2 linked regions of the Homo sapiens genome follow. The protein of the gene in region 2 interacts with the protein of the main gene of each other region in a biochemical or structural test. Each region holds a gene or a part of one and is shown on either strand. Other genes may lie near its edges.

Region 1 (3,649 bases), on a different chromosome or scaffold from region 2:
TGCTTAGCACAGGGTCTGGTACATACCAAGCCTGTAACACATGCTCATTTCACGGACCGATGATCGCCTAAGACAGACTCCAGTCTGTTTTTCTCCCCAAAGTCCTTTCCAAAGGTCCCCACTGCCCAGTCAAGTCCCACCCTGTGGCTTGGGGATCAGGTCCTATGGCATCCAGGTCAGACCCCACCCTGACTCTAACTTGACCCCCTTATTCCTGTGCTTACTCAACAGCCCCCGACACCAGAACTTTGAAGACATCCTGGATTTCCTGATGCCTCCCCCTCCAGTGTCACCTTGCACCCCAATGCTTTCTACCTAAATGCAAGTGCAATACCTGCTCCTCTCTCAAAGCCTAGCTCAAATGCCACCTCCCACTCGAAGCCTCCCACCATCCCCAGTTAAGAATTCATCACTCCCTCAGTGCTGCAGCTGTACTCTTCTCAGTCTCCCTTGACTTCCAAGGAATTGAACTTTGCCTGTGTCCCTCACAAGGCATCAAGTTACTCTAGGGTGTGGAGGGACTGGGTTTCCTAGCCATCTTTCCTTGCAGTCCCCTCCCCTCAGCATCTGAGCAGGTCCTCTGTCACTTGGTGAAGTGGAAAATGACAGGAGGTTCCACAGTGGAAGAGTGGGTGGGAAGGGACATATGTCAGGGGGTCCCCTCCCTACAGCAGTGACCACCCAGCATCCAGTGGGGGAGTGAAGGGCAATGAAGGGTACATCCTGGGGTCCAGGCCAACCTGGCTCTCTGCTCGGCGGGGCAGCCCTTGTCATCCAGGTCCACACAGCTGCAGGAGAAACAGTCTCATCAACAATTCTGGGAACCACCCTCTTGGGAACCACCTTTCCAGCCTCACAACAACCCTGGGAGGGGTGTGGCTGGGTCATTATCCCCATTTGACAAAGGCAGAAACTGGGCTCAAGGCCGTCAGTGCTCCTTCTACCACCTCACAAGGAGACTCCTTCTCCAGCCAAGGAACCGGCATGCCCCGCTCCCCTGCAGCTCCTTGTGGTGGATAGGAAGCGGGGAGGGGCACCCAGAAGAGCAAGCCCGGGAGCTCAACTATTCCCTCCATAGAAGAATCCCAGGGTAAACCCATACCACTTCTCCAGAGAACGGTTTGGCAATACCTATGAAATATCATCTATGACCCAGCAGTTCCTCCTCTGAATATAGACTGTACATACTGTTTGCAAATGCTTTTTTCACTTAGCAGAATCTTGCAATGTTTTTCCATGTTCTAACACCGTGATCTGGATCTAGGATCCATATGGATCTGGACCCATATTCTTTTTTTTTTTCTTTTTTTTCTTGAGAAGGAGTTGCACTGTGTTGCCCAGGTTGGAGTGCACTGGTGCAATCTCGTCTCACTGCAACCTCCGCTGCCCAGGTTCAAGCAATTCTCCTGTCTCAACCTCTCAAATAGCTGGGATTACAGGCGCCCACCACCACGCCTGGCTAATTTTTGTATTTTTAGTAGAGACGGGGTTTTGCCATGTTGGCCAGGCTGGTCTTGAACTCCTGACCTCAGGTGATCTGCCTGCCTCGGCCTCCCAAAGTGCTGGGATTACAGGCGTGAGCCACCATGCCCAGCCTGGATCCATATTCTTTTAATTTTTCTCATTTAGTTGTCTTTAAATTGAAATGCATGAATATATCCTTGTGATAAACATTGCCAGCACTGTATTCCCACTAGGGGGCATACAAAAGAGGGCTCACTTGTGTGTGGAGCTCAATTGCAATAAACTGCAAAAACAGGGAAACAAGCTCAATATCCCTCAAAAACAAAGTGAAATTACATCCATGTTACAGGTTGAGTAATTAAAAAAAAAATAAAGGTGGTAGATCCGTCTGTACTCACAAGAAAGGATACCTCAAGTCGGGGGGAAAGCAAAGTGCAGAACAGCATCACCACACCTGGCTAGTTTTTGTATTTTTAGTAGAGACGGGGTCTCGCTATGTTGGCCAGATTGGTCTCGAACTCCTGATCTCAAGTGATCTGCCTGCCTCAGCCTCCCAAAGTGCTGGGATTACAGGTGTGAGTCACTGCGCCCAGGCTCTTGACACTTTTTGGTTTACACAAACAGCAATCTTATTTGACTCGACCTAATATAAATGTAGTATGTCTATATAAGTGTGCAGAAAAGAGCCTGGAAGGGTGAACACACAAGTCAATGCGGTGGTTCTCCCAGCAGACAGGAGAGACTGGGTGGACAGGGAGTTGAGTGAAAGGGCACGTTGGCTTTGTAACATTTATACTTTTATGTTACTGAAAATGTTTATCACAAGGATGTATTCATGTGTTTCATGTGTAAAGACAACTAAATAAGAAAAATTAAAAGAATAAGGTAGATCACCATGTTAGAACATGGAAAAACATTTCAAGGTTCTGGAAAGTGAGAAAAAGCAATTTGCAAACAATATGTATGATCTATGATTCTATTTGTTAAAAAGAAATATATGACTGGGCATGGTGGCTCACCGCTGTAATCCCAACACTTTGGGGGACCGAGGCTGGCAGATCACCTGAGGTCAGGGGTTCGAGACCAGCCTGGCCAACATGGTGAAATCCTATGTACTAAAAATACAAAAATTAGCCAGGCAAGGTAGCACGTTCCCGTAATCCCAGCTACTCAGGAGGCGGAAGCAGGAGAATTGCTTAAACCCAGGAGGTGGAGGCTGCAGTGAGCCAAGATTGTACTACTGCACTCCAGCCTGGGCGACAGAGTGAAACTCCGTCTAAAAATACATATGTGTGTGTGTGTGTGTGTGTGTGTGTGTGTTAAAATGTGCACAGATAAAAATAACTGGAGAATAATATTAATATATGTTAACTTATATATACATATTAGAATGTGCACAGACAAAAATAACTAGAGGAAAAATATTTCAAATTATTAACAGTGGGGATAGAACTGCTAGGGCATTAATTTATATTTCATGTTTTAATTTTACAATTTTAACAATGTGTTATTTTTGTCATCAGAAACAAGATATGACAAAGGGAGAGTTGGTCCCCTTTTATAGTAAGAGCCCCAGAAAGACCCCTGAAAGGAAAGTCCTCCTTTCTGCAGAAAAGACCGTTGGACTCACGAGTGGGTGCAGTTGATGGGGCAAGGCTGGCATGCGCCCTCCTCATCTGGAAACTTCCAGATGGGCATGTAGGAGAGGTCAGGTTTCACACCGCTGGGGCAGCGGGCCACGCAGAAGGGAGGGTCCTTATAGTGGGCACAGGCCACACACTGGTCAGCCTCCTGGGGGGGGCAGAAAAGATTTGTGGGGGGCTGGCACTGACACCCCCAGGGCAGTAGGATCAGGCCCTTAGTTGGGTCCCCTTTGTGCTTCCCAAGGCCACCCAGCAGCAATTTTCGCCATGCTCCTGGGACAAACACCCTTGCTCTTCACCCAGTCTCTGTGGCCCCTCCCTCGGGGCCCTCCTCCAAGCTTGATCCTGGGCAGGGACTTGAGCCAGAAAATGGGAGGCACCCAGAGAGGAAAACGCATTACCTAAGGTGTAACAGCGAGTAACAACAGTCACTGCTCTGTAGAAAGCCTTTCCCGTGCTTCACTGTGCCAAGCCCTGTTTAATTTCATTCTTGCCACACCCCAGCAAGGTAGGTATTATTACAATACCCATTTTAGGAATAA
Region 2 (3,649 bases):
GGGTCTCTGCCCATGCTGTTCCCTCTGCCTGGAAGGCCCAGTGATTTACTTAGAATGAAAGTAAGTGACCTCCTGGCCAGGCGTGGTGGCTCGCACCTGTAATCCCAGCACTTTGGGAGGCCGAGGCGGACAGATCACCTGAGGTCAGGAGTTCAAGACCAGCCTGGCCAACATGGTGAAACCCCATCTCTACTAAAAATACAAAAATTGAGGCCAGGTGAGGTAGCTCACGCCTGTAATCCCAGTACTTTGGGAGGCTGAGGCAGGTGGATCACGAGGTCAGGAGTTCAAGACCAGCCTGGCCAACATGGCGAAAACCCATCTCTACTAAAAATACAAAAAATTAGCCAGGCGTGGTAGCATGCGCCTGTAATCCCAGCTACTCGGGAGGCTGAGGCAGGAGAATCACTTGAACCCAGGAGGCAGAGGTTGCAGTGAGCCGAGATTGCGCCACTGCACTCCAGCCTGGGCAACAGAGTGAGACTCCATCTCAAGAAAAAAAAAAAACAAAACTGCTTTTCATGAAAAGCCAGGCCATAAAGGTAGGAAATGACTTTTAAAACGCAAAGAAATTGTCCAAAATATATAACGACTTTTACAAATCAATTTAAAAAAGGCTAGACAGACAATAAAAACATGTACTTCACAAACGACCAAATTCCGATGACCAATCAACATATGAAAAGGTGCTTAACCTCCATGAGTCATCAGGGAAACGCAAAGTAAAGCCACCTTGAGATCCAGGAACGCAGCCACCGGTGACTCTTAACACCAAGTGCCTGGCTAACATGGTGAAACCCCATTTCTACTAAAAATACAAAAATCAGCTGGGTGTGGTGGCACGCGCCTATAATCCCAGCTATTTGGGAGGCTAAGGCAGGAGAATCAGCTTGAACCCAGGAGACGGAGGTTGCAGTGAGCCGAGATTGTGCCTCTGCACTCCAGCCTGGGCAACAGAGCGAGACTCCGTCTCAAAACAAAAACAAAACAAAACACAAAAAAACCCACCAAGTGCTCAAGTGTTGGTGGGGAAGTGGAACCACCCGGAACTCTCGCCCACTGCCGGTGGGACACAAAATGGTGCAGCTGCTTTGGGAAAAGTCTGGCAATTTCTCTAAAGTAAACATGTACCTACTCTATGACTGAGCAATGCCACTTCTAGGAATCCACCTGAGAGAAATGAAAGGATGTGTGTCCATATTTAGACTTAGATGCAAACTTCATAACAGCCTTATTCATAAATCAAAATAGAAACAACCCAAATATTCATCAACAGAGGATGGGATAAACCAGTTGTGGGACATGGAGACAGCTGTGCAATGGAATCTATTCAGTACTCAAAAGAAACAAACCCGGCTGGGCGTGGTGGCTCATGCCAGTAATCATAGCACTTTGGGAGGCCGAAGTGGGGGGACCATTTGAGCCCAGGAGTTCGAGACCAGCCTTGACAACATGGTGAAATCCCATCTCCACAAAAAATACAAAAATTAGCCAGGTGTGGTGGCACGTGCCTGTGGTCCCAGTTACTCGGGAGGCTGAGGTGGGAGGACTGCTTGAGCCCAGGAGGACAAGAGGCAGAGGATGCAGTAAGCTGAGATCGAGCCACTGCACTCCAGCTGGGTGACAGAGCGAGACCTTGTCTCAAAAAAAAAAAAAAAAAAAAAAAAAAGGAAGACACTATTGACATGTACGATCAATGTGATCAATCTCTAAAACATTATGCTGGGCAAAAGGAGCCAGAAATAAAAGGCAACCTATTTATTAGCTGGGAGTGGTGGCACGTGACGGTGATCCCAGCTACTGGGGAGGCTGAGGCACAAAAATAACCTGAGGCTGGGAGGTTGAGGCTACAGCGAGCCATGATCACACCACTGCACTCCAGCCTAGGTGACACAGTGAGACCCTGTCTCAAAATAAAATAATAAAATAAAACAAAGGCAACCTACTGTGTGATTCCATTCACATGATGTTCAAGAACAGAGAAATCGAACCTGTGGTGATAAGAGGTGGTATGTATGGGGGTACAGGGCACTGGCCTGGGGGAGGCATGAAGGAGCCCTCTGGGGTGCTGGTCACTTGCGTTGCACACACACGGAAACACAGAGCTTCAGATGTGTCTCATACTTCACGCACTTCCAGGTCTGCATGTTACGCCACAGTCAGTTTGAAAACGTTACTTCAAAGGATTCTTGGATGACTCTCCCAAACCGCCAAACCGGGACCCCTCAGTTATCCTCCCAGAGACCCCATTGCTTTTCCTTTAGAACACAGTTTACCAGTTTTAGAACACAATTTACCATTTTTAATTCCATGCTCATCTGTGGGTTTATTTCCTCAACAGCCTCCACTAGGCCCGCCTGGTCCCCCAGAACCTAGCATGTGCCTAACACATAGTAGGTGCTCCATAAATATCTGTCGAATGAATGAAAGAGTAACCATAGGTTTCCTCCACCCACATCGTGAGCCCCTCAGGGCCAGTATCACATCGGTTTTGCTCATGCTCTAGAGTAAGGCCCTACCACGTAACAGGATCCCAAAGAGAGAGCAATTAGATGAAAGCCATATGGTCCTGTCATGCATACCTGAGTCAAAGATGGAGCCTGGCAGGTGAGTAGAACACAGTGACCTTTCAGCCTCAACAGCACAGTAGGAATTAAGCCAGCTGTGAAGGAAAAGAACTTTTTTTTTTTTTTTTTTTTTTTTGAGACAGGGTCTCGCTCTGTCACCCAGGCTGTAGTGCTGTGGTGCGATCTTGGCTTACTGCAGCCTTGGTCTTCTGGGCTCAAGCGATCTTCCCACCATAGCCTCCAGAGTAGCTGGGACCACAGGCGTACACCACCACGCCCAGCTAATTTTGGTATTTTTTGTAGCAATGGGGTTTTGCCAAAGGACAAATTCTTTTTAACTTGCAAAATATCACCAAGGCACAGGAGGTGCAGAGAAATTCTCTGAAGGTTTTGAGCCCTCTGGAAATAAAACACCAATCTGTCAATGCCAGTCTGAGTCAGAGTTTTCAAGGATCTCAGAGTGACCTGCTACCAGCCCACATGACACCCAAATGTGAAGGCAAAAAGGTGTCCCTGGACATTGTACAAAATCCTTGACTGGTACTCCTCAAAACTGCCAAGGCTATCAGCAATAGAGGGTTGGAAACTGTTACAGCCAAGAGGCGCCTAAGGAGACGTAACGACTAAACCTCATGTGGTATCCTGGGGGGCGAGCTGGAACAGAAAAGGGACATTAGAGGAAAACTGGCAAAGCCAAAGGAACAGTGGCGTTTAGCTAATAGTGATGTACCCGTGCTGGTTCCTTAGCTACAACCAATGTACACAGCAGCGTAAGATGTGAACCTTCGGTGAAGCTGGGTACCATGTGTAAAGGAACACTACTATCTTTGCAACTTTCCTGTAAGTCTAAACATTTTTTTTTTTTTTGAGACAGAGTCTCACTCTGTCACCAAGGCTGGAATACAGTGGTGCAATCTTAGTTCACTGTAACTTTCCCTCCCAGGTTCAAGTGATTCTCCTGACTCAGCCTCCCAAGTAGCCGGGATTACAGGCGTGCGCCACTGTGCTCAGCTAATTTTTTATATTTTTAGTAGAGACAGGGTTTCACTATGTTGGCCAGACTGGTCTTGAACCCCTGGCCT

What was found. The genes of interacting proteins can lie anywhere in the genome.
Region 1: the proteins of SH2B3 (region 2) and ERBB2 form a complex in vitro, tested with the Homo sapiens proteins (2 studies listed by BioGRID and IntAct, with this or other methods).

What each region holds. Positions count from the first base shown.
Region 1 is NC_000017.11:39,716,926-39,720,574, reverse strand, and holds part of ERBB2 (receptor tyrosine-protein kinase erbB-2 isoform a precursor), read right to left. Parts: intron 3,509-3,649; coding exon of another isoform or gene 3,407-3,508; intron 3,256-3,406; coding exon 3,095-3,255; coding exon of another isoform or gene 3,091-3,094; exon of another isoform or gene 2,918-3,090; intron 789-2,917; coding exon 741-788; intron 1-740. UniProt on the Homo sapiens protein: Protein tyrosine kinase that is part of several cell surface receptor complexes, but that apparently needs a coreceptor for ligand binding. Essential component of a neuregulin-receptor complex, although neuregulins do not interact with it alone.
Region 2 is NC_000012.12:111,419,422-111,423,070, reverse strand, and holds part of SH2B3 (SH2B adapter protein 3), read right to left. Parts: intron 2,663-3,649; exon of another isoform or gene 2,583-2,662; intron 1-2,582. UniProt on the Homo sapiens protein: Links T-cell receptor activation signal to phospholipase C-gamma-1, GRB2 and phosphatidylinositol 3-kinase.